Linked DNA regions of Homo sapiens: regions 1, 2 and 4 are each linked to region 3. The links come from fine-mapping of genetic effects on gene expression. A gene starts in region 3. Each other region holds a variant in brackets. All regions are shown on one strand. Distances are from middle to middle. Region 1 overlaps CFDP1 (craniofacial development protein 1). Region 2 overlaps CFDP1 (craniofacial development protein 1). Region 3 holds the start of CFDP1 (craniofacial development protein 1). Region 4 overlaps CFDP1 (craniofacial development protein 1).

Region 1 (4,840 bases), 140 kb after region 3:
GAAATTGGTGGCAGATAAATAATTTGGGTTGGAAGATTCAAAAGATGTCAGAGCCTGTTGTGCCTAACCTGGTTCTAAAAGGAAAAACTAGAAAATCCCTTAGGTTCTTAGCATATTTTATTAAAGAAAGTGAAGAGCCTCTTAAATGGGCCACAGAAGGCAATGGAAGCAGAAAGGGATGATGCATCCCCCACCACTAGGCTTCCCTGTGGACTGGGCTGAGTCATGCTGGGCCCCCAAAAGGGCTGCGCACAGGCCAGAAAAGCACCCGGACACATCAAGAGCAAGAGCCGTGATTCCCATTGCACTTGTCCTCAGGTGGGTCTGTTCTGGGACCGTGACCCATTTAAAGTGCATGAAAATGTCCTGAGTCTCAGTGGCCACCTTTGAGGAGGTGGCCTTTCTAATGAGCCCTTCCTCTTTCAGGGACATTTAGTCTCTTGGTCTCTGTTCCGGTTGCCCTGGGTTTTGAGGTTCTGTAGAGGTAAAGTCAAGTCAGAAGAAATGTGAAGCAAGACCGGGCAGAGTGGCTCACGCCTGTAATCCCAGCACTTCGGGAGGCTGAGGCGGGCAGATTACTTGAGGCCAGGAGTTCAAGACCAGCCTGACCAACATGGCAAAACCCCATCTCTACTAAAAACACACACACACACACACACACACACACAGACACACACACACACACACAAGAAATGGGAAGCAAGAACCCCAAGCCCATGACAACTCCCATAGCTATTTTTTGTTTTATTGTATACAAAGCACTTCTCACAGTTTCATTGGATTGCCAGAGGGTTATTGTAATTGTTATTCTGTTTTACAGAGAAGGAAAAAAAGGCACAGAAAATTAAGTATCTTGCCCAAAGTCACACAAAAACTAAATGTCAGAGCTACTGTCATTCTTAGTACCTTTTCTGTCTCTTGGCAGTGGGAGAGTCCATATCAAGTAGTTTTGTTCATGGTCAGCTCTTGGCAGTAAACCAAGGCCGTCACAGGCATCCTGTTAGCAGCTGCAGATGGCTGTGAATTGGGGAATAGTCACCAGACCTGCCTTGATGGCCTTTGTCTGGGTTGCCCTTGAGAATTCAGTTGCATCCTGCACATGTTCCCCTCACTGCTGCCTGAGGCCTCCCTAAACCTAAACTCTGACTGCACCTGCCTGTTTAGCACCCAACCTGGGCTTCACTCTTGATAGTCTCAAAGTCAGCTGGACCCAACACAGCTTCTGGGAACGTGCAGGACCTTTATTCGTACCCAGTTAGCATCCTCATTTAAGTGTCACTTCTTATTTACAGGAAAGTCAGGGCTGGGCCCGATGGCTCTCACCTGTAATCCTAGCACTTGGGAGGCCAAGGTGAGGATCGCTTGAGCCCAGGAGTTCGAGACCAGCATGGGCAACATGGAGAGACCCTATCTTTACAAAAGATTTAAAATTAGCCAGGTGTGGTGGTGTGTGCCTGTGGTCCCAGCTACCTGAGAGGCTGAAGCAGGAGGATTGTTTGAGCCTGAGAGGTCGAGGCTGCAGTGAACTGTGCACCACTGCACTCCAGCCTGAGCCACAAAGCAAGACCCTGTCTTAAAAAAATAAAGTCAGGAAGAAAGACCCCAAATGCTTAAAGCCACATACTTACTCCTTCCCTCCACCTGATCTCCCAGACAGGTAGCACTGGAAGATGGCTCTTGAAACACACCCTAAATTCCTCTTACACCCCCAGGTGAACAACAGCACAGCAAGATCTCATGCTGAGGCTCACCTCTCTTTTTTCTGCTAGCACTTCCAGGGGACAGTTAAAGTGCAGTGCTGTCAAAATCCTGGTCCCCGTGGTAGTGAGCCTCCCTTGGGCTGGTGGGGCTGGGGTGGAAAGATGACCAGTTGTAGTGAACGTGCCTCTGAGACCATTTTGGTTAGCAGCCCCCACTCAAGAATCACGGGTCTCTTAGTGGGAGGTGGGAAGTAAGTTTGTTGTTAGATGTCTACACTTCCCTACCTGTCTTCCCTTTTTCTCTTTTTATCTAAAGGGGTCCATGCTGTCTGCAGCTTCCCTGACTGCCAGGGACTCTGAAGTTCGAATTCAGCCAGGCAGCCTGTAATTTTATTTGTTAAATCTGACAATCCTGACCCCAAGGGCTTTTATCAAACCTAAGAGCAGGCCCTGTCATTGTGTTTCCAGCCATTCTGGCCTCATTGACGGTTTTGACACAGCAGCTTAGTACCTGAGCCAGACCAGGTGTTTTGGTTCCTCATTGCTGAAACCATAAGTCCAGACTTGGGCCATCTACTGTCCTTGGGAGCCTGTTGGAAGCTGGCTTCCTAAAACCATGATAACATTACCTGTCATTTTATTGAGTACCTGCTCTGTGCCCTGTGTGATGTAGACACTATTTTATTTAATCCACACAACAGTCCTTCAGAGTGGAGATGACTAGCCATTATTTATTATCTTTATTACAGATTAGGAAACAGAACTAGCAAGGTTAAGTGACTTGCAGAGTCACAGACAGCAAATGACAGAACTCAAACCTCCAGCCCTCTGGCCTCAGAGCCTGTACATTTCTGGCCAGCCCTCCAGAAGGGTCAGGGTAGTCAGGCCTAGCTGGAAATGAGGTAGGATGGATGGTACTTCCTAGGATGCTG[T/C]TGGAAGGGAAAGCAAGGCCCTGGACTCAGCAGGGGAACACAGGTTTCTGAACCTGGTAGCATTCTCACTATAAATGTAATGACTTTGTAATGACAGATGCATATTTTCCACAGTGCAACAAAAGAAAAATTAGTGCAGAGATTCAATTTTGTCTCCCATTTTCCATGGCAATTTTTGCTCTCTCCATAGATTAATTAGCAGCAGAGATCTCCTCCGCCCAGGCAAATCGCAGCACGCTTTATGGTGAGGAGGTGCATTAAGATGCAGCTGTGTCTCATTAAGCAGCCAGCCTCACTCCTAGCAAGCGCGCCTGTGCTTCAGCCCTTGCTGCTTTCCCGTCCTGCCTGGAGGACAGAGGGAAAGTTTGCTGAACCCAACCAGATTAGGGAGCAGAGTGTCCACCTTTCAAGGGGATCCTTGAAAGGAGAGATCAGAGGCCCTTAAACTCATTCTCTTAGAGGCATTTAGGGAAAGAGTTCTCCTGTCATCTTAGCAGAAGCAACCTAGACGCAAACAGGGTGGAGGATACTGCGGAGAGGAGAAAAGGATGAGGGGAAGAAAAGAGCTCAAAGCAGTTAAATCACTTCTAAAGTGTGCACTTTATGAACCTCAGCTCACTTCACCTTCACTGCAGTCCTGTGAGGTCATTTTTACTGTCTTCTTTCCTTCATTACCACATGCCCCCTTTTCATGTTTTGATGTATGTATGCAGGAGGCCTAGCTTTCTCTTACCCACCAATTCAACACACCACTAAAGCCAAGAAAAACAGCATCACCATGCTGCTGTAGAGAAAAGTGAGGCTCAAAGATGTTCATTCCTTTGCCCAGCTAATCAGTGAGCTAGAGCTAGGACTTGAACCCATGCTTGTGTAAACCGGTATTCTTTCTTCTGCCCTTAAAGTCTTGTTAGAAAATTGCAACATCTTCCTGCCACCCAGCCTCTAATATACTTTCTCATTGATAAGCTGTTGCCTTCCTTTTATTTTCACCATCCTTGTTTAGACCAAATGTGAGTGGTTTGGATTGTACTGGAAGAGTCATGGGTGGTCACTCTCGGCACCATTTACTGTAACTTAGTTTATCCCTGGGGGATGGGACTGTGCAGGGGAGGAGTTTTTCCTACTGGATTCTACTGACAAACACTGTTTTCATCTTCTAGGTACATTGAACGGAAAGCCTTCCTTGACCGAGTGGATCACAGGCAGTTTGAAATTGAGCGAGATCTCAGGCTGAGCAAAATGAAACCTTGATGTTACGGGCTAAATCAAGAGCAGCTTAATCCTGTTTACAATGTGAGCTTTTTGTGCGTCTGTGAAATGTTTTACAGTGTTTCTCATCATCTGTTTCCCAGCAAGGTCTTTTTTTTTTCTACATTGAAGTTCTGTCTATGTATCTTAATCACAAATGGTTTCATTCACTTTACTTTTAAAAATTTGTCCTTAAATGAATAAATAAAATAAAAGTTGGTCCTGTGAGAGGATAATGAAGATGACGACCTCGCTCACCTTCCCTTTATTCTGCCGCAAAGTCCCACCCAGTTCAAGACAGCACATTCCAGGTCTGTCCAGGCTGGCAGAGGTCTTGCCAGGCATGGTGAAGATAGCTGACCAACCTGGGTGTGAATTTTCCGGGGCCAAGAGGCTCTTTCTGCAGCCAGCCTTGCCCCGAAGACCTAGAGGAGGCGGCTCACTAGAGTGACTGGAATGCCAGGCCCCTTCGCAGCTTGTTCTCATTTCCACTCGGGCTTCTCTTCTGATCTCTCTTTCTCCTGAATGGATTCCTACTGATGGCATGTAAGGCTGAAAATAAGGATATATTATTGCTGAATTAGCTGTTTTTTCCCTTCAGCCTTTTTCCTCTTCCCAAAGAAAAGTTAAATTCAGATATGCTCCCACTTCAATAATTCATTAATTTTTAGTTTGTCAAAGAATATTCTGAAGGATTTTCTTTTTTATACTCATAAGAAAATGTAAATTTCAAACTTCCTGCTTAGAGTCAGACATTCTTTGCAGAACAGCAGGGAGGAGAGTAAGAGAGTAACATCTTCAGTGAAGAGGGAAAGAGGGATAGAGACCATTCATATTAATAAGCGGGAAACCCCACAACCTGCTTCTGGTGTGTGTGCCTGCATGTGCATGTGTGTTACCCGAGTACCATGACAGGTTTGGGTGATGACAGGTTACCTAAGACTGCATTCCATTTCTTGC
Region 2 (4,840 bases), 63 kb after region 3:
TAGTAAATTGTGTAGAGGAAGTCAAGGCTTCCCTTGTAAAGGACAAAATGGCTTCGTATCTAGAGCAGAATACAGTCTTGTAGCCAGGAGTTTCAGACCAGCCAGGGCAACATAGGGAGACCCCGTTCATACCAAAATAAATAAATAAAAATAAAAAGAATACAGTCTTTAGGGAAGCAAACCCTTTGAATACAGTGTGTATCTCTAGCTGAAATTCAAACTGTGCCTCTCTTTTGTTCATGATTAGTTACACAGTGAGTTTAGGTAGAATGGGGGGTGGGCAGGGGTCACAGAGAAAAAGAATCCAGCGTTGTGTATCTTATCTTAGCGACATTTATATTACCCACCATGTGAAAGTTCTTTTGAGAAGCTTCCCTCTCCTCCAGTTATTTTCTTTTTTAGTACAAAACAACCTTTTTAATATTTATAAAACTTGGTATAAGGCCAGTCATTTTGTGGGAAGAAAGTCCAATACGATAATGAATCTATGAGCATTAGCAAGAATGAATGAGATGAGATTATTTAAATATACTTTGGCTAATTTAACATCTGTGTGTGTAAGTGTTGAAATGGGTCACCATGTTATTTCCAAAAACGTGGCTTGGGAATTATGCCTTCTTTTCACTTAGCACATGTAACTGGATAAACCGAGACTTAAGTAGCTTTTAGGGGAAGGAGGGAAAGTAGACAGATGGGAGTAGCTGCTCCAGCATAGGTGTGTCAAGCAAATTGTCACCCTTTTATCTCTGGGCCAGAGTTGTTTCAGTTCCTGCATCAGGAATCAAGTGTATGATCTGCTTCCATGCCGGGGAACTCCTTTAAAACAACAAGATGTTGAATTTTTTTCTTTTACAGTTGATAAAGTTAATTTCCCTTTTCAGTTAGCAGTTTGCCTTTAGAATTTTGGAACTAAAATATTCCTTGCTAAGGCTTTTATTTTCTCCTCCCTCACATGTACTCTGGGTTATTTAGGATTTAAATTAGACATTTAAAGGGTATGTATTTGTGTGTGCGTGCATTTTCTTTTAACTGTGAGTGACAGCAATACCAGGAGAAAAGTTAATACTCCATCTTGCCAAAAGATGATGGTTTTATTTTTCTCTCATGAAACAAAACCTGGGAGGAAGAGTTGAATGAACTTTGCAAACAGTTGAGCAAGTAGATTGGCTTCCAGACTAAACCCTGGATTGAGGTACAGCTAGAATAACTCACTTAGGTTTTCTGTTTATTCTTTCAGGAAGAAGAAATTTGATGCCTAGAGATTGATCTGCTTTTTGTTTTTAAGTTCTAGTTCTGGTTCGATTTCAGAACCAGTCTGCAGGCAACTCTGCATTGTCTCCTTAGAGAACTGGACAATTCCACTGATCTGGATCCTTTGGCAGCAAGCTGACATTTTATTGAGGCTGGTCAGCACTCCTGGCCAGAGTCTTGAAATTGTGGGTGTGTTTTTGCTGCCCATTGTTGAGTTATTCATGAACAGATATGAAAACCATATATATCCGAATTTTGTTACCACTAGATGTGATGAGTTTTTCTTTTTGATTATTTGGGGATTCTTAGTTCTCTGTCAAACTCTTCAGATTAAAACCCTTCTTATAGCTATTACTTTGGACTTCTTATATTTTACAGTATAGGGAAGAGAAAGCTGTCATGGTTATTGCTGGCTCCTTTTTTAGAAATAGGTAGAGTATTATATATGCTTTTGACTTGAACAGGATTGCCTGGTGCAAATAATAGTTTTACTTAATTCTTTTAGCTGTAAAATAGGGATCATAATTCCTACTTCATAGAGCTGTTTTGAGAATGAAATGAGATAAGGTGTCACTACAGTTCCTGGCACAGAAGGACTCAATGAAAATTAGTAGTTTTTCCCTTTTCCCTATTTTAAATAACAAGGTTGATCTTCACTTACTAGTTCGTATTAGGACAAGGAAATTATAAAATCATCAAGGAAACAGTAGACTTAACAAATAAATGAAACTTAAAACTATTAAAAACGTATATAGATTTAATCAACATTTTCATCCTCTTCCTACTAAATGAAACCTTTGAGTTGGAGGAGAATACACCAAGACTGAAATTCACTTACTTTTCTTTCCTCTGATTATTCTAATATGTAACAAAACACTTGAGAGGTTCTCAGAAAAGACCAAGAGATTCTTCCTATGAATGTTAGGCTATAGTAATATTTTTATGTACTAAAATATATAAACCTGTTTTTAGAAAAGAGCCTGAATTAGCAGAACAGGAATTTCCCAACTACAAAGGAAGCTTAACCAAAACGCTTAAGGTTAGTTTTTAAAAAACATTTGAATATATAAGAACTTTGTTCAGTTTTTTTAACCTCGCCCCCCATTCAGGTTTCTTAATCTGCTTTGACATCACTATTTTAATCTCCACAGTTTTATTTACTTAAGACATTAGCCAGTGTTTAATCATCTTTAGAGAGAGATATATAATTA[T/ATTAT]GAAATTGTATCATATTATGTTGACATTACTTAAAATGTTTTAACTTGTATTTGTCCTAGGGGACTTTTGGCAGTGTCTAGAGACATTTCTGGTTGTATAACCTGGGCAAGGCAGGGGATGCTACTGGCATTTAGAGGGTAAAAAGTTTGAGATGCTGCTAAACATCCTGCGGTACAAAGGACAGCTCGAAACAAAGAATTGGCTTATTCAAAATGTTAGTAGTTCCCAAGTTAAGAAACCCTGCGGAACACTACAGTGAAGTCCACATGAACATGTGATAGTTTGTTTTTTACAATTCTGGAATTGGCTTTTTTCTGCACTTGGCACAGTATATGCTCATATAGGGCATATTTGATAAATGAATAAACTAACAAAGTGAGATAGATCCCAACCTGAATTTTGTAGTAAGCAAGTCCTTTTGCAAGTGAGTTGATTTCTGCAAATGGATCTTTAAGTTTTTTTTAATTCTTTTTTTAAATTTTTGAGACAGTCTTGCTCTGTCACCCAGGCTGGAGTGCAGTGGTATGATCTTGGCTCATTGCAGCCTCTGCCTGCTGGGTTCAAGCGATTCTTGTGCCTCAGCTTCCCAAGTAGCTGGGATTACAGGCACATGCCACCACACCAGCTAATTTTTGTATGTTTAGTAGAGACGGGGTTTTGCCATGTTGGCCAGAATGGTCTGGAACTCCTGACCTCAGGTGATCCGCCCTCCTCAGCCTCCTAAAGTGCTGGGATTACAGGCGTCAGCTACTGCACCCTGCCACACATTATTATTATTATTATTTTATTATACTTTAAGTTCTAGGGTACATGTGCACAACGTGCAGGTTTGTTACATATGTATACATGTGCCATGTTGGTGTGCTGCACCCATCAACTCATCATTTACATTAGGTATATCTCCTAATGCTATTCCTCCCTCCACATTATTTTTAAAATAGAAAAAATTTGGCCGAGCGTGGTGGCTCACGTTGGTAATCCCAGCACTTTGGGAGGCCAAGGTCAGTGGATCACCTGAGGTCAGGAGTTCGAGACCAGCCTGGCCAACATGGCGAAACCCCATCTCTACTAAAAATACAAAAATTAGCTGGGTGTGGTGGCAGGCACCTGTAATCCCAGTTACTTGGGAGGCCAAGGCAGGAGAATCACTTGAACCTGGGAGGCAGAGGTTGCAGTGAGCCAAGATTACACCATTGCACTCCAGCCTGGGCAACAAGAGCGAAACTCTGCCTCAAAAAAAAAAAAGTAATAAATAATAGAAAAAATTCAAGGCCAGGCATGGTGGCTCACGCCTGTAATCCCAACACTTTGAGAGCCGAGGTGGGCAGATCACTTGAGGTAAGGAGTTTGAGACCAGCCTGGACGACATGGTGAAACCCTGTCTCTACTAAAAATAATAATAATAATAATACAAAAATTAGCTGAGCTTGGTGGTGCAGGCCTGTAGTTCCAGCCACTGGGGAGGCTGTGGCATGAGAATCGCTTGAACGTGAACCTGGGAGGCGGAGGTTTTAGTGAGCCAAGATCGCTTCACTGCACTCCAGCCTGGGTGACACAGTGAGACTCTGTCTCATAAACAAATAAATACAGTAAGTAAGTAAGTAAAGTGTTGGTCAAACAAAAGGAGGCCAGTTTGGAAACTCTGGTTCCTTAACCTGCTGTTGAGACTCTGAGCACTAGAGAATAATCTGGTCTTACTTAGTTTTCTTTGTTTCTGGTAGACAGATTTGCAAATTGCTTTTCCAGTTTCATCAGAAGAAACAAGTGTGGACACATACGTCTCTGTCAATACACTGTTTAGATTATTGGAGAATAAATAGGCAACCTACTGCGAAGCCATGTGTCTAAATGTATATAATAGTTAAAGCAGAAGCCTGCATCTAGCTAGAATTCTGTATAGCAGTGTGCGGGTTTTTTGGCTTTTTGTTTTTTTGTGGGTTGTTTTGTTTTTGTTTTTTTTGAAGCGAACTTTTGCTATATTGCTAAGGCTAGTCTTGAACTCCTGGGCTCAAGCAATACTGCCTTGACCTCCTAAAGTGCTTGGATTACAGGCATGAGCTACTGCGCCTGGCCTGCAATATGTATTTTAAGCTACTTTTTTTATTATTCCCTAAATAAAAATAATTTCTCCTATGCCTGACGAAATCAGTCTTATTTACGTTCAAAAACTATACTGAGGAGAGGAGGACTGTATTTACTTTGGACTTTTGAGCAACTCATTTACACATATTACACTTACATTTCTGATGTGCCTATTTTTAACCAAACCTTGAATTTGATACATTAGCTGATTGGCCACATAAATGTTTTGGTCTTCATAAAGCAAGACATGTTTGTGCAAGTATTGGAATATTTTATTCCATTTTATCCTTACTTT
Region 3 (4,840 bases):
CCACCTCAGCCTCCCAAAGTGCTGGGATTACAAGTGTGAGCCACCGCGTCCAGCCTGTACAACCTTTTCATTGGCACACACAGAGTACACACATATAGTTCCCATATACAGTCAACAGTATAACATACTGTACAGTTCCCACAGTAAACACATACACTACTTTGCACACATACTGTATACCCTACAGTACAGCAATACAAATAAAGGGAAAAAGTTCAAAGATGGAGCATCCTAAGTTTTATAAAAATATCAACTAAAATCTTACGGTTGATGGAGCTGCACAATGTGGTTAAACCTCTCGACCTTGGCTTGCCCCACAGAAACCAGGGGAGGGGTGAGTGAAATTTATTCTGCAGAAGAGGAAGAGGGTGGCAGGTCAACCTCTGGCATTTCTACCTTAGGAGTCTGGCTCTTGACACTTGTTGAAGGAGTGGGCAATCTTCCCTCCCAAACTGGCTTGAGAAATTGCATTAGCCTTGCCTGCCTGGCTTTTCTGCCTGAAATCTTTAAGCATCTCGGTATAAGGGGCAAACGCAGTGGAGGCCAGCCATTTAAATTTGAGGCTTCGATCAAGCGTAGGGTCACACTCTTCCATGTCGCTAAAAATTTTTTCCAAGGCAGAACTCCATTCTGATATTTTGGCGCTGTGAGAGGGACAATTCTGGAAGTCTTGGGCCGACTTTCATGGCCATCAACTCCAATGCCTTCTTTTGCCATCTCATCCAGGTCTTCGTTGGTTGGTTCCACTGCCTTCTCTGCCAAAATGTACTCCACATCTCCTTCCTTCACGTCATCAAAGCCCTCTCCACTTACCTGCTGTGCCATATGCATTATGTCTCTGACAGTGTTCTTTATATTTTCTGTAACACCTTCAAACCCTTCAAAATTCTCCACGCAGTCTGGCCAAACATTTTCCCAACAGTTATTGGTAGTAGCCTGACCAATGCTCTCCCAGGCTGTACTGACATAATCAATAACGTTGCATGTAGTGACCGACTTCCAATAGTCCAGCATGGTGGTTTCCTTGTTGGTCCTGAGAGCCTCACAGGCCTTCATATAAAGCTCCCTTGTGTAGTGTGCCTTGAATGCTTTTATTATGCCCCGATTGAGGGGTTGGATGAGAGACTTAGTGTTTGGGGGCATAAAAAGAACTCCTATGTTGGCGTGTGCATTTTCGAGTTCTTTGCAGCAATGGATTGTAGCATTATCCAAAATTAACAAAACCTTGAAGGTGCCCGGCGCGGTGGCTCACGCCTGTAATCCCAACACTTTGGGAGGCCGAGGCAGGCGGATCATGAGGTCAGGAGATCAAGACCATCCTGGCTAACACGGTGAAACCCCGTCTCTACTGAAAATACAAAAAATTATCCAGGCGTGGTAGTGGACGCCTGTAGTCCCAGCTACTCGGGAGGCTGAGGCAGGAGAATGACGTGAACCCGGGAGGCGGAGCTTGCAGTGAGCCGAGATTGCGCCACTGCACTCCAGCCTGGGCGACAGAGCGAGACTCCGTTTCAAAACCAAACCAAAACAAAACAAACCCAAACAAACAAAAAACAAAACAAAACAAAACAAAAAACCCTTGAAGGCAAGGTTTCTGCCCTGGAGACAGTGTTCAGCTTCTGGGATGAAGCAGTTGTGGAACCAATCAGACATCATCCACACTTTTTTGTTCCACCTCCAATAGACTGGCAGATGGTTCACGTATTTCCCGTTAAGTGCTTGTGGATTTTGGGTTCTTTACACCATTAGGAGTTTGCACTTTAGTCGCTCTTGGCATTGGCGCACAATAACAAGGGTGCATGATCCTGGCATGATTTAAAGCCAGGGGCTTTGGAGGCCGTTTGCATTATATAGGTTCGTTTGCCAACATCCTTGTAAAATAAGCCAGTCTCATCCGCATTGAAAACCTGCTCTTTCACATAACCCTTTTCCTGTATAACACTTAGCAAGTATTTTTAAAATTCTTCCGCAGCCTCCTGATCTGCAGAGCTCGCCTCACCTGCAAGTTTAACATTTTTCACCCCGTATCGCCTTTTGAAACGCGCGAGCCGGCCAGCACTCGCCGAGAAGGGCTTAGCATTTCTTTGACTCTGGGTAACGTGACCACAGATATCTTTGGCTTTCAGCCTCACCACAATGCTGTCCACTATGTTTTTTTTAATCGATTGACATCTCATGAATCCACAAATTTAGCCGCTTTTCCATCTTTTCCATCTTTGTCATAGCTTCATCACGCACGATGGAGGTCACTTCAGCACTATCCGGAGCGGCCTCACGGACAGATCGGTGAATTTCCTTTTCCTTTTTCTTGATGTACCGGATTGTCGACTCGTTAACATTGAGCTCATGGCCAACAGCACTGTAACTCATGCCTGATTGGAGCTTATCCAACACGCGGACTTTCTCCGTAAGGCACATCACGGTCTTCTTTCGCTTAGGAACACTGGGCAGAGCTTAAGCACTACGCTTGGGGGCCATTTTAGAAAGCAAAACCACCCACAAAAAGCAGAAAAAAAAGTGTCAGTAAACAGACTGCGGAAAGGACTCTTTGTTTACAGCACAGGAGCTGCGACTAGAAGGCGGCGCTTCTCCCAGTTCAAACTTCAGCTGGGAACCTTACCTCCGCCAACTCCAAATTTTCACCCTCTGCGCATGCCCGGGAAGAACCCCAGACAGTACCGTGATGATTGATTTTAGGGTTACAAATACATTTTAGCAAGTAAGTGAATTTGGCATTACGAATTAATGATTAATGAAGGTCACCTGTATTTCCATAGATATGTAATTTTATTTAAGCAGGTTTATTATATTAAGGCGGCGAGGCAGCGCCGAAGACTACAAGTTCCAGCATGCACCGCGTCCGGGCGGGTTCGGGCTCCCAGCGAGGGCTTCAGGGACGCCAGCCCGGAGGCATCGGCCGGAAGTGTCGTAGGGCAACCACGTAGTACTCTCTGCGCATGTGCAAAGCGCTGTCGGGGGCCGCCCTAGCTGCCGTCGCCGCCGCCGGGGCTCTATGGTCTCTCCCTAGAGCTTTGCCGTTGGAGGCGGCTGCTGCGGTCTTGTGAGTTTGACCAGCGTCGAGCGGCAGCAACATGGAGGAATTCGACTCCGAAGACTTCTCTACGTCGGAGGAGGACGAGGACTACGTGCCGTCGGGTGAGCGATTCCGCCTGAGGCGAGAAGCGAATTGCCCCGCCCCACGCCTCACGTGAGGCGCGCTCTGCCCCCGCGGGCGTCTGCCCTGTGGCCCAGGTGGTCCAGGGGGGCTCCTGTTCTCGAGCGTCCGCTCCCTCAGGCCCCTCATCCTCGGCCGCTCCGGCCCGAGGCGTGTGCGCGTGGCGGTTCTGTGCTCCCCTCCCGTTGGGCAGCTCCGGCCGCCGCCCCCTCTTGCAGCGCGGGAACCGGCACATGGACACGGCCCCTTGTCGCTAGGGACGCTCGTCGGTCAGCCCCGAACGACACCGCTGCTTCAGAAGTCGGGGCGGCAGTCCGAGCCTTGGAGGTTTTTTTCAGCCCTGGCCCGAGAGAGCTGCTGGCCACCACCCCGTCCAAGATAGAGCTGTCCGCTCTCCGCCTGGTTGTTAGAAAGTTCTGATAGAAAGTTCCCCCTTTGATGCTTTTTGCCTCATTGTGACGTCCACCCATCCTCTCCTCTCAGAACTTTCTTTCCTTAGGGATCTCAACCCGAACGGGGTGAGAATGAATCTTACTGAAGAAATCTTTCTGTTCCCCCTTCTTGGTCTTCCCCAGACAAACCGTCTCGTTGAAAGTATCTTCACCCATTCACATCTTCAGTTGAAAGACTAGACAAACAAGAAACAAACAGACTAACAAAACACAACCCAGGAGTCGTCCCTATTCTCTTTGTTTTACTTTGTTCTGTTCTGTTTTATTTAAAGACAGGGTCTTGCTGTTGTCTAGGCTGGAGTGCAGTGATGCGATCTTGGCTCACTGCAACCTCAGACTCCTGGGCTCAAGCGATCCTCCCGTCTCAGCCTCTGGAGTAGCTGGGACTGCAGGTGCAGGCTGCCACGCCCGCTAATTTTTTAAATTTTTTTTTTTTTTTTTTTTTTTAGAAATGGCATCTTGCTATGTTGCCCAGGCTGGTCTCGAACTCGTGGGCTCAAGTGATCCTCCCACCTCAGCCACCCAAAGTGCTGGGATTACAGGCATGAGCCACCGCGCCCCGGCTAGTGAAGTATTTCTAAAAGGCACGTTGAAAACTAGCCATTCCATTCCTGGCGCGGTGGCTCATGCTTGTAATCCCAACACTTTGGGAGGCTGAGGTGGGTGGATCACAAGGTCTGGAGATCGAGACCATCCTGGACAACATGGTAAAACCCCGTCTGTACTAAAAACACAAAAATTAGCTGGGCATGGTGGCACGCGCCTGTAGTCCCAGCTCCTCAGGAGGCTGGAGCAGGAGAATCGCTTGAACTCGGGAGGTGGAGGTTGCAGTGAGCCGAGATCACACCACTGCACTCCAGCCTGGGTGACAGAGCGAGACTCCGTCTCAAAAAAAAAAAAAAAAAAGTTAGCCAGTCCCATCACCCTCATCCCTATTTTATTTAATATTCCTCAGGAGAAACTTCTTTCCACCTTTTGAATTTGGTATTATATTTCTGTTGTCTATTGATTTAACCCATGTATAGTAGGTATCATTTTTAGTAGCCCCTGACCTCCTTCCCCTCATCCCAAACACACACACAAACACTTCCACCTTCGGGGCCTCCCCAACTCCGTAGTCTGCCGTTGAACCTGTGTCCAGTTTTAGTTAGATCAGTATTCAGTGTTTTTTTTTCTTTCGAGACAGTGTCTCGCTCTGTGGCTCAGGCTGGAG
Region 4 (4,840 bases), 120 kb after region 3:
GTACACATGTTAACCCTATCCTTGCTGGTCCACTTTTGGTACTGGTCTGTCAGTTCAAGTGTAGTGTTGAATATTTTGTTATGAGAAAAAGTGTTTGGGTAAGTCCATTGTCAAATAATGAGGATTTAGTACATTAAAAATGTAGTAGATTGGGCATAGTGGCTCACACCTGTAATCCCAGCACTTTGAGAGGCCAAAGTGGGATGATTGAGGCCAGGAGTTCGAGACCAGCCTGGGCAAAATAGCAAGATCCCTGTCTGTACAAAGACGTTTTTTAAATTATCTGGGTTTGGTGACATATGTCTATAGTCCCAGCTACTTGGACTTAAATCTAGCACCAAGCAAGGTGGAAAAGACAGTAGTCTGGGCATCAAAAGCACTGAGTACTAACCCCAAGTCTCCTGCTATAAACTTGGGCAGGTTTCTTAACCTTTTGGAGTTTAGTTGACTGATCTATAAAATAAGGAGGTTGGACTAAACATCCCTTCAGCTCTTCTTTTGTGCCCTCATAATATGTGGTTACAGTTTGCCTGTATGTTGATCTGTCCTCCACTAGATTTTTGTTTTGAAGCCGAAAATTAAGCTTTGTATATTTTTATATCCCCATTCTGAGCACAGTGTCTGGTAGAGAGTAAGTTCTCAGTAATCTCTGTTGAATGAATGCAATGAATGAATGACTCTGAATTCCTTTCCAAAGCTAAAATTCTATTCTGTGAAACAGCTGGGTACCTGGGGATGATTTTAAAGATCTCCGGGAAAGATCTTCTACCATCCTTCACAAACAGTTGGTAAGCCCTGTCAGCCTTTCCACTTGGCAAGTTACTCTCCCAGCTCCTTTCCAGTACCTCTTTTAAACAAACAGCAGGATCCCGGGCATTGCTGAGGGTGGTCAGATAGAACAGTGCTCTTGCTACAAAATAAATCGGTTGGACAAATCCAAGTCAATGCTGGTGGACATGGAACAAAGTAAACAAGTTACCATAATATCTCTGTGACAGACTCAACAGGATGAAGTTTATTGTTTAGTTACAATGACATTTTTGTTAAAATTACATTTCTTTTGCTAAAGAGAAGCAGAATAAGTTCTAGAAAATTATCATTATAAACTTTGAACCTAGAAAAGAAAAAGATGACTTGTCATTTTACATTCTGTGTCTCTTTTACTTTTCTGAGTTTCTTAATCAAGGTCTTGGTTGGTGTCTGGTGTTATGATAGGTCTTGGTTTGGCATGGTGGGAAGGGAGTTGATAATTGCTGATTGATGGATAACTGAACAAAATATGCAAGAAAGATAAGCTTGGAAAATAAGTGTCTCTTTCACCAGTATGAGCTGCACTCAGCCACTCTCTCTTATGGCATGGAAGCTGGCTGGTGAGAGCAAAGTCCACACTCCTTGAACAGTATTAGTCTTTACATCAAATTTATGGTAGTAAGGTCAACAAAGTCATGTGATGTTCAGGAGGAGGTGGTTGCAATGTCATTGTGACATTGGAAACATCTTGGTAATAACATTCCAGAATGCCTCAGCGTAACATTTGGGATGTAATCTGGGTGAGCAAGTGCATGGTGCATTTCTTTGAACTTTGACTTGCAACAGGTGGGTGAGGAGTCTCTTGACTCAATGAAGTACTGTTGTCTGGAGAGTGGTCTGTTAAAGCAGACTTTCTGGCAGTACCTTGCCCTATGGCTTAGGATAAAGAACAAAGAAACCAGTGGTTCTGTTGGTCTGGAACTGGATTGGTTTTTTTTTTTTTTTTTTTTTTTTTTGAGATGGAGTCTCACTCTGTCACCCAGGCTGGAGTGCAGTGGCATGATCTTGGCTCACTGCAAGCTCCGCCTCCTGGGTTCACGCCATTCTCCTGCCTCAGCCTCCCAAGTAACTGGGACTACAGGCGCCTGCCACCACGCCCGGCTAATTTTTTGTATTTTTAGTAGAGACGGGGTTTCACCGTGTTAGGCAGGATGGTCTCGATCTCCTGACCTTGTGATCCGCCCGCCTCGGCTTCCCAAAGTGCTGGGATTACAGGCATGAGCCACAGCGCCCGGTTGGATTGGTTCTTGATGAAAACAAATCTCCAAGGGAATTCTGACTTCCCCATTCTACAGTTTTCCAATATACACAGCTGCCAGATGCCTGGAGAGCCAGTGCTGATTTGTCCCCTGCTAGCCATAGTTCTCGGAGGTGCGTGGCTGAAGTAGGCTTTTCTGTGTTCTTTCTCAGAATAGGGTCAGCGCCCCCTGCCCAGAGACTGATTCTCTCCCGCCTCGGCTTCCTGAAAGCCTGGTTCATGTACCTTTGTGGCAGAGAAAGCGGCAAGGTCACAGTAAATCTGCCTTTCTGAAAGCTGTGCTGAAATGACACCAGGATTAGGACACTGAAACCCCTCTCAGGGTGGGAGAGTGAGTGGGAGGGCTCAGAACCCTGAGGGAGCCCACAAACAGGTTCTAGGAAGAAGCTGCTGGTCTCCTGGTTATCATGAGCCCCCTGTGTGTTCTGGCTGCTGCTATCAGTGTGTCATTCACTTTGATTTAGCCTCAAATAAAAGACAGATTATTTTGCTTTAGAGACTATCACATTAGGACATCTTACACCTTGTTAATGACCCAGTGAAAGGAGAGTTGGAAGCCTTCCCCAAAA[G/A]CATAATAGCACAGGTGACATTTTACTGATGTTTAATGGTGAGCAAGGCAAAGGGGTATTATGGTTTTTTTCCTTTTCTGGAAACCTCACTGCTGTGCATCAAAAAATCAAGTTTCTCATAGACTTCTCAAAGTAATTCGTCAATAAGATGGCCTCACCCAGGAATACCACTGGAGCTGTAGGCTGAAGGGGAGAGGTGGCGTACATAGCTTGTGGTGCTGCCCAAATTAAATGGGGAACCTTGGGCTGTTGAGAGCTGATGGGAGAATAAAAGTGAATTGTTCCCCTTAAAATCTCCAGTGTAGAAGCGCTCTAAAGAATACTTAGTTCTGCGAATATCTGATTCTCTTCCATGAATTGGTTCTGTAATCCAGGTGACGTTGTTGACTTAATTGAGTGCTCACTGTTCACAGAACTCTATCAATGGGTAGAGAGGTTTGGAGACACAGGAACTTAAATAGCCACAGAAAGATAAAGATTACACGAGGAAAATAATTTTTCTCCTAAAATCCTTAGTTAGAGTCCCCTCAAAGCAGAACATAAGACAAGGATTTTGAGTGCAGGGAGTTTATTTGGGAAGTGATCCCAGGAAGCAGGTGTGAGTGGTGGAAAGAATGAGACAAGGAAGGAGGAAAAGTCAATATAAGAGTACAATTCCAAGGCCACGAGGGCTTGATGCCACCAGAACTTCTGAGAAGCATTCCACCTCCTATAGCTACCTTGTGAGGGTAGGAGGCTGGCCGTTTAACCACCAGCTTTTGTGTTCCTTCAGGCTAGCCCCAATGGCTTGAGCTCCACCACCTGTCCAGGCAGTACTTGTGGCATGCAGGCAGGCTCAGAGGAGACCCTGCAGCCAGAAATGGAAAGTCCTCATGCGTATGCTTTTGGTGGGGTGTTGTCAACAGTGAGTCTGCACTTGCCCAGAACCATCTAGTGCAGCTGCAGCTGAAATAAGAGTTCACAAGCATCTAAAGAAAAGATCAGTGTTCCCATATGAAAAGAACTGGTATGATAGAAATACCACCAGGGACACCTAATCTAGAGGTTAGGGAAGGCTTCCTGGAGGAAGTGGTTTTAAAGCTGAGATAAGGCTTAATATGGTGGCTTGTGCCTATAATCCCAGTACTTCGGGAGGCCAAGGCAGGAGGATTGCTTGAGTCCAAGAGTTTGATACCAGCCTTGGGCAACATAGCAAGACCCTGTCTCTACAAAACATAAAAAAGATAGTTGAACGTGGTGGCACACACCTGTAGTCTCTGCACCTCAGGAGACTGAGGTGGGAGGATCACTTGACCCAGGGAGGTTGAGGCTGTAGTAAGCTGTGGTTTCACTGGTGTACTCTAGCCTGGGTAACAGAGTGAGAACCTGTCTCTAAAAAAGTAAATACATAAAAATTTATTTTAATTATTATGTTTTAAAAAGGGGTCAGTGGGCCTGGGCGCAGTGGCTCACACCTGTAATCCCAGCACTTTGGGGGGCCGAGGTGGGCAGATCACCCGAGGTCAGGAGTTTGAGACCAGCCTGCCCAACATGGCAAAACCCCGTCTCTACTAAAAATACAAAAAATTAGCCAGGTGTGGTGGCAGGCGCCTGTAATCCCAGCTACTTGGGAGGCTGAGACAGGAGAATCGCTTGAACCCGGGAGGCGGAGGTTGCAGTGAGCCGAGATCACGCATCTGCACTCCAGCCTGGGCAACAAGAGAGAAACTCCGTCTCAAAAAATAAAAATAAATAAAAATAAAAAGGGGTCAGTGAAGAGACATTTAAGCAGAAAGACATGCTAAGCTTTGTGTTTTGGAAAATTCAGTCTAATTACAGCATGTCACTAGATACCAGGATAGGGCCACTGAGTGAGGATGGGGAAAAACAGGTCAGGGAGACCAGTAAAGAGGCTGTTCAATTATCCAGGTGATATAAGAATGAGAATTCGGGCAGTAGCAGTAAGGAAGATGAGAAGGAAAAAGATTTGAGACACAGTAAGTTTCCATATCCCCACTCATGCTCCGTTCCTGGTAAAATGGTGAAAAAGAAAGTGTGTGTGTGTGCGTGTGTGTGTGTGTGTGTGTGTGTGATCACGCGCACATATGACATTGTAGGGGTTGAGTTGTCTGGAAAACAGTGCTTAGAAGATATGAATTGAAAGCTCATAAAGAGCTATTTGGAGTTCTCTTAAGCAAACTGGGAAGTAAAGTAACTAATGAGA

What was found. PIP is the estimated chance that this variant, and not a neighbour inherited with it, causes the effect. A credible set is the group of variants that fine-mapping cannot tell apart.
Region 1: its variant is the best candidate, but not a certain one, in a credible set for the expression of CFDP1 in thyroid (GTEx, PIP 0.55).
Region 2: its variant is the best candidate, but not a certain one, in a credible set for the expression of CFDP1 in visceral fat (GTEx, PIP 0.52).
Region 4: its variant is the best candidate, but not a certain one, in a credible set for the expression of CFDP1 in tibial artery (GTEx, PIP 0.75).

The regions. Positions count from the first base shown.
Region 1 is chr16:75,292,995-75,297,834 of GRCh38, reverse strand. CFDP1 (craniofacial development protein 1) reads left to right here. Exons shown (of 7, transcript NM_006324.3): 7 at 3,793-4,125. The coding sequence ends at 3,883. Among named protein-coding and RNA genes, the nearest start is that of BCAR1, 44 kb to the right of the region's middle. The variant T/C (reference allele first, on the strand shown) is at 2,633.
Region 2 is chr16:75,368,966-75,373,805 of GRCh38, reverse strand. All of the region lies in intron 5 of CFDP1 (craniofacial development protein 1), which reads left to right. Among named protein-coding and RNA genes, the nearest start is that of CFDP1, 62 kb to the left of the region's middle. The variant T/ATTAT (reference allele first, on the strand shown) is at 2,463.
Region 3 is chr16:75,431,605-75,436,444 of GRCh38, reverse strand. It overlaps CFDP1 (craniofacial development protein 1), which reads left to right and starts at 2,942. Exons shown (of 7, transcript NM_006324.3): 1 at 2,942-3,156. The coding sequence starts at 3,093. LOC124903723 (tigger transposable element-derived protein 1-like) reads right to left here and starts at 1,241. Exons shown (of 1, transcript XM_047435019.1): 1 at 225-1,241. The coding sequence starts at 1,143. The coding sequence ends at 346. RefSeq lists enhancers at 2,336-2,903, 2,447-2,956 and silencers at 3,267-3,506, 4,763-4,840.
Region 4 is chr16:75,306,746-75,311,585 of GRCh38, reverse strand. All of the region lies in intron 5 of CFDP1 (craniofacial development protein 1), which reads left to right. Among named protein-coding and RNA genes, the nearest start is that of BCAR1, 58 kb to the right of the region's middle. RefSeq lists an enhancer at 3,448-3,948. The variant G/A (reference allele first, on the strand shown) is at 2,638.